Linked DNA regions of Homo sapiens: region 1 is linked to region 2. Evidence: fine-mapped expression QTL. A gene starts in region 2. The other region holds a variant in brackets. All regions are shown on one strand. Distances are between the middles of the regions.

The links. PIP is the estimated chance that this variant, and not a neighbour inherited with it, causes the effect.
Region 1: its variant is fine-mapped to the expression of TMEM150C in thyroid (GTEx, PIP 0.98).

Annotation. Positions count from the first base shown.
Region 1 is chr4:82,624,995-82,627,896 of GRCh38, reverse strand. No RefSeq gene overlaps it. Among named protein-coding and RNA genes, the nearest start is that of LINC00575, 5.0 kb to the right of the region's middle. The variant C/T (reference allele first, on the strand shown) is at 1,188.
Region 2 is chr4:82,560,797-82,563,698 of GRCh38, reverse strand. It overlaps TMEM150C (transmembrane protein 150C), which reads left to right and starts at 1,711. Exons shown (of 8, transcript NM_001080506.3): 1 at 1,711-1,793. RefSeq lists an enhancer at 1,486-1,985.

The DNA of each region.
Region 1 (2,902 bases), 64 kb before region 2:
TGAAAAACAATTTAATGAGAGAAATTATTACAGAAAGCTCTACAGCTTAATGGGGTAGTAGAAATAGCACTGGACTTGGAGTCCTGAGACCTGGATTTGAACTCTAACTCTTGATCTGACTGGCTGTGTTACCTGGGACTCAGGTTAAGGCTGAAATATGACATATGAAATTGTCATTTACTAGCCTGCGGAGCCTCTCTGAGCCTCAGTGTCCTTGTCTACACGACAGGAAGAGCAACATTTATGTGTATTAGATGAATCTGGAAGCCTCATCCCAGTGCCTGGGGCATTGCAGAGCCCTGGGAGACATCAGTTGAGGGTGAGTAGCATGCCCCACACACAAGCCAGAGACTGGGATATGGTGCAGAGAGCCATAGACCAGAAGTGAGCCAGCTTCTGGGCCTGGTTTTGCTAACTAACCAGATGGCTCTAACCTCTGGGAACTTTGGTTTCACTTTCCATAAAGGACCAACTGGATTGGGTTAACCTGTCCAGCTCTGCCGTTCTGGGGAGTCTTTGCAACCGTGTGCCTCCATCAGTTCCAGGCCTCCGCGTGGCCCTCTGCACCCCTGGCCTCCTTACTGTGCCTCGCACCTGTGTCAAAGGACAGGTCTGGCCTGCAATGTCCCTATGCTTCAGTCAGCTCATCAGGACCTGGAATAGATTTGTGGAGGGGAGAGGTTGAAACTCATGGATGAGAGTAAGCATTGGGGATTATCTGTGAGGTTCATTTGTCCATTTCACTCCTGTCCCCAATTACAAAGGGGACTGAAAACCAGTTGTGTTCTCAGTGGCTGAAAGAAATCTCCTAACCTTTATAATCCTTTCTTAAAAAATTTTCCCATTTTTGGCCAGGTGTGGTGGCTCACATCTGTAATCCCAGCACTTTGGGAGGCCGAGGCGGGCAGATCACGAGGTCAGGAGATCGAGACCATCCTGGGTAACAGTGAAACCCCATCTCTACTAAAAATACAAAAAACTAGCCGGGCATGGTGGCAGATGCCTGTAGTCCCAGCTACTCTGGAGGCTGAGGCAGGAGAATTGCTTGAACCCAGAAGGCGGAGCTTGCAGTGAGCCGGATTGCACCACTGCACTCCAGCCTGGGCAACAGAGTGAGACTCTGTCTCAAAAAAAAAAATTCCCATTTTTAGCTTAGGGTGTTAATCAAACTCCTTCCCCTTCCTCTA[C/T]GTCAAGGATGTGCTATAAATGAACTGGAAACTCCTTTCCTTGTTCCCTCTGCTACTTCCCTGTGGACTGTAGAGTCCGAAGCCCCCATCCCACCCCAAGGATGTTCCTGACTTCTACATTTGCAACATCAGAAGCAGGAGGAGGGAAGGCCTGTCTCAGGGCAACAAGCCCGGCTGTCCCAGCAGCTTCTGTGGGCTCCGACACAGCCTTCTTTCCCTCTCCATTCACCCCCCGACCCCGTGGTGCCACGACTCCCCATCTGGAAGAACAGTCAGCCACATCCTGCCTGTAACTGCTTCACAGGATCCAAAAGGAAAATATCAGCTAACAGCAGCCTGGGCTAGCTGGGGCTGTGAAGACTTTGCCCTGCAAAAGAGTACCCTTCCTTACAGCTGCTGGCCTAGGTTTACTATGGAAAAAAGATGGCATTACCTTCAACCAGCCATCTGAATCCCTCACAACTAGGGATCTACTAATAGCTGCCCTCCTCCCCACTTGTTCTCAATCCTCTATGAGGCAACTCTCAATGTTACCATTGAATCTCAGAAGTTGCTTGCTTGCTTGCTTTCTCTTTCTTTCTTTCTTTCTTTCTTTCCTCTCTCTCTCTCTTTTTCTTTCTTACAAGGTCTCACTCTGTCACCCAGGCTGGAGTGCAGTGGCGCAATCTCAGCTCATTGCAACCTCCCCTCACTGCAACCTCCACCTCCTGGGTTCAAGCAATCCTCCCACCTCAGCCTCCCCAGTAGCTGGGACTACAGGTGCATGCCACGATGCCCGGATTTCTGTTGTTGTTGTTGGGGGTAGAGATGGGGCTTCACCACGTTGGCCAGGCTGGTCTCAAAACTCCTGACCTCAGGTGATCCGCCCGCCTTGGCCTCCCAAAATGTTGGGATTACAGGTGTGAACCACCATGCCCGGCCAGAAGTCTCAGAAGTTGCTTTCTTCTAGAGGTACCAACTGTGAGACAGAGCTGGCAACCCCTGTGCTGTGGGTGGACAAAATGACTGGGCCCACCACAGCAAGGGTGTGTTTGTAGTTTTATGACCAGATTTCACATAAGCCTGTGCTCACAGCACATGTATCGCAAAACACAGGAGCTGTGTGTAAGGGTGCGTTCTTATTCTGAGCTGTGTGGCCAAGCTGCTGCGTGGGGTCGGGGGAGCTCCCTATAAAGTACATGATGTGAGCATTGGTGGAGATGAACTAAGCTAACTGGGATCTCCAATGTCTCAAAGACAGCATGTGTCCCACAGGCGTCATGGCAGACTCATGGAGCCAGCCTGGGACAGTGGAGCCAACTCAAGTTCACCTCAAGTCCCCAGCTCTGCTACCGGCCAGCTCTGTGGCCTTGAGAAACATCAGCCTTTCTGGATTCAGTTTCCTTCTCTGAAAAGTTCCTGACTTCTACTCTGCAACATCAGAAGCAAGAGGAGGGAAGGCCTGTCTCAGGCAATGTAGGCAATATCTTCCAGTTCCAGTAAACAGGTTCTGACACCCGAGGCAGAGGGATAAGGAAGATTCACTTCAGCTCCTTCCTGGCCCTGCAATTGCTGCCCATGAATCCAAGAATGGCTTGATCAGAGCTGACTGAGTGCCTTCTATTTCCTCCTCGGAACTAAAGGGCACTTTCATTTCTAGCATCATAAAGTGCTTATTTCGGATGTGCCAACCAATGAGCACATCTGTCTGCACTGTTGTCCACAGCTCCTGCTAG
Region 2 (2,902 bases):
AGGACTCTTTCCGTTATTGCAGAGAGAAATGAATGGCATGGGGACAGGGAGTAGAGAGAGGAGGGGTTCATGGATGGGCCTCAAGCAATCTTACCTTTGGGGGAGTCAGACCACTTTGAGGGTCTGATTAATGTGTAGTTACTCTCCTCAGAAAAGTACACATAAGCTAATTCCCACAAAATTGAGCATATACTTTCAAGGGAGTCTAGACTAAGATTCAGTTTTTGCTTTTGCTATTTTAATTGAATGGATAACAGTCCCACTCATTAAAATAAGGAAAACAAGAGAAGGCAAGATCCCTGGTCTCAGGAAGCTTACAGTCTAGTAGCCAGGAGAAAACAGTAACAAGAAATCAACATACAGAAAAAAAAAAAGAATCAATATACACATAGTAGACAATAATCACAAGAATTGTGGGGAAGGGAGAGTTCTGGAACCGAACGTTAATTGCAGAATTTGAATATGCTGAATTGGAGAAGATTCTTAGAAACACCTGGTTGGGCCGGGCGCGGTGGTTCACGCCTGTAATCCCAGCAGTTTGGGAGGCTGAGGCAGGCGGATCACTTGAGGCCAGGAGTTTTGAGACCAGCCTGGCCAACGTGGTGAAACCCCGCCTCTACTGAAAATACAAAAATTAATCGGGCATGGTGGCGGGCGCCTGTAATCCCAGCTACTCAGGAGGCTGAGGCGAGAGAATCGCTTGAACCCGAGAGGCAGAGGTTACAGTGAGCCGACATTGCGGCACTGCACTCCAGCCTGAGCGACAGAGCAAGACTCCGTCTCAAAAAAAAAAAAAAAAAGAAAGAAAAGAAAAGAAAAGAAAAAGAAAAAGAAAAAGAAAAAGAAAAAAAGGGAATGCCTGCTTGTGTAGAGACAGCAGTTTAAAGGAGACAGGTGTGCTACGGAAGCCCCCAAAAGAATAGAGGGCAGACTGACAAAGGCCGGTTGATAGAGAGCCACCTGTTGGAGGCCAGAGAGGTTGTGTTTGGAACCCAGGCTCATGATGAGCCTAAGATAAAAATGGCATTGATCCATGCTGCTGCTAGAGGTCACTGACATGGTGCCATGGGGTCCCATGGTAGGTTGGGGGTCCGGGATGGGGGAAGCTGTCAAAACGCTGATGAACACAGTTTATGACGGACTCAGACGAGACCCAGGGAGGAAAGCTGCAAGCTGGCGCTGGGAGGTCGGCCTTGGTGTCTGCTGTTCATTGCCAGGGTCCGAAGTTGGCTCTGTGTTTGTTCAATAGGATGGAAAAAAAAAAACCAAAAACCGCGGGACAGCGCTGAGTGGAGGAGAACTACATTCAGTCAATGGGCATGAAAATGAATTTTAGCTGCTTTGTGCAAAAACCCTAGGTGTGCGGACGAAAGAGAGCCAGGCAGAAGGTTACAACAGGTCAGGAATAAATAACCACCAGGCGGAGGATCCAAGATTCTGTCCTTCCTTTTGTTGGATGAGGAGCGCCAGGCAAACGCGTCCACAAAGGCTTCGGAAGGAAGCGGCTCGCCCGCCCACACCCGGCTCCTGCCCCGGGTGACTATTAGGGGCCCCGGGGGGGTGGCAGAAGCCCGAGACCCAGGGGATCAACTCTCCCCGAAGGCCTAGCAGCGGGGACCCCAGAATAAGTCGGGGGCGGGCCCCGGCGCGGCAGGAGGGGGCCGGGCGGGCGGGTGAGCAGATCCCACCCCTTCCTGAAGGAAGCGCCCTACCCGCCGCTACTGCTGCCGCCGCCGCCACCGCAGCAGGTCACAGCCCCTCGAGGCGACAGCGGCCCCGCCGCACCAGAGCAGGTAGGCGCGGCGCCCCCTCCCCTGCCTGGGCCCGTCGCGCAGCCAGGGGGCGTCCGGCCCGGCCCCGTGCGCAGCCCGCAGGCGGAGACCGGGGACGGCGGGGGCTGCAGCGCGGCTGGGGCGGCTGGGTCCGCCCGGCTGCGGGGCCCTGCTCGGCTGCGGCCCCCTCCCATAGCGTCCCGGGCGCGGGGCCGCCCGCCCGAGCCCTCCGCGGGCGCACGCTCCCCGGCAAGTCCAGGAGTCGGTGCCGGCTCTGCCCCGCGACCTGCGAACGCCCGAGCCGGCGCGCCTCGGTCCCCGCCGCCGCAGTGCCGCCAGCCAGCCCGCCCGCTGCGGCCCCGGCCCCGGCCCCGGCCCCGTCCTTTGACAGGTGTCCCCACCCGCCGCCCCATCATCTCGTTATCGGGTGGACTCGGGTGAGAAGCGACCCCAAGTTTGACCTCCCGGTCCCTGTGCCATTCTCCCTGCACTTTGCGGTTAGCCAGGTCAGGCTGGCTCGGGAAGCAGGGGATCTGGGAAGGAGGCACTAACTTGCTTTGCCCTGTGTACCGCCCTCCACTCTAAATGCACAGTCTTCCTTCCTTTCCTGGGCGCACACTTGGGAAGAAATGGGATTTTTGGTTTTTCGGCGGGAGGCCGTGGTAGGTGGGTTACCTAGGCTCTTTGGTAATCTGCTGCAATAAAAAAGTGATTAGCTTTGGGTTCTGGAGAGAGTCCTTGAGTGGTTTTCCCCTCCTTAAATGAATCAAATGGAGTATGAGAGGGTTTTCCCATTTTAAATTCATGCTCCTTTTTTCTCTACTCATTCCTTTCCTCCACCCCTACCCCCACAGCACTTTATGATGTCCCACACATTTCACTGATCTTTTTGGTCAGGTTTATTCCGGCCAGACCGCCTTTCACGGTTGGGCCAGGATTGTGACCGCATGTGGGAACATAGCTCAGGTAGAATGGAAGTCCATCTTCCCGAGTGAACCCACTCCGATGTCCTACATGCGAGGTCCTGTTGGGGAACCAGATATACCAATGCCATGTTGAAAAACAAAACCAAACAGTTATTGGATCTAAAACAATAACAAAGCCTAAATGGCAGGATCAGTTTCTGCATC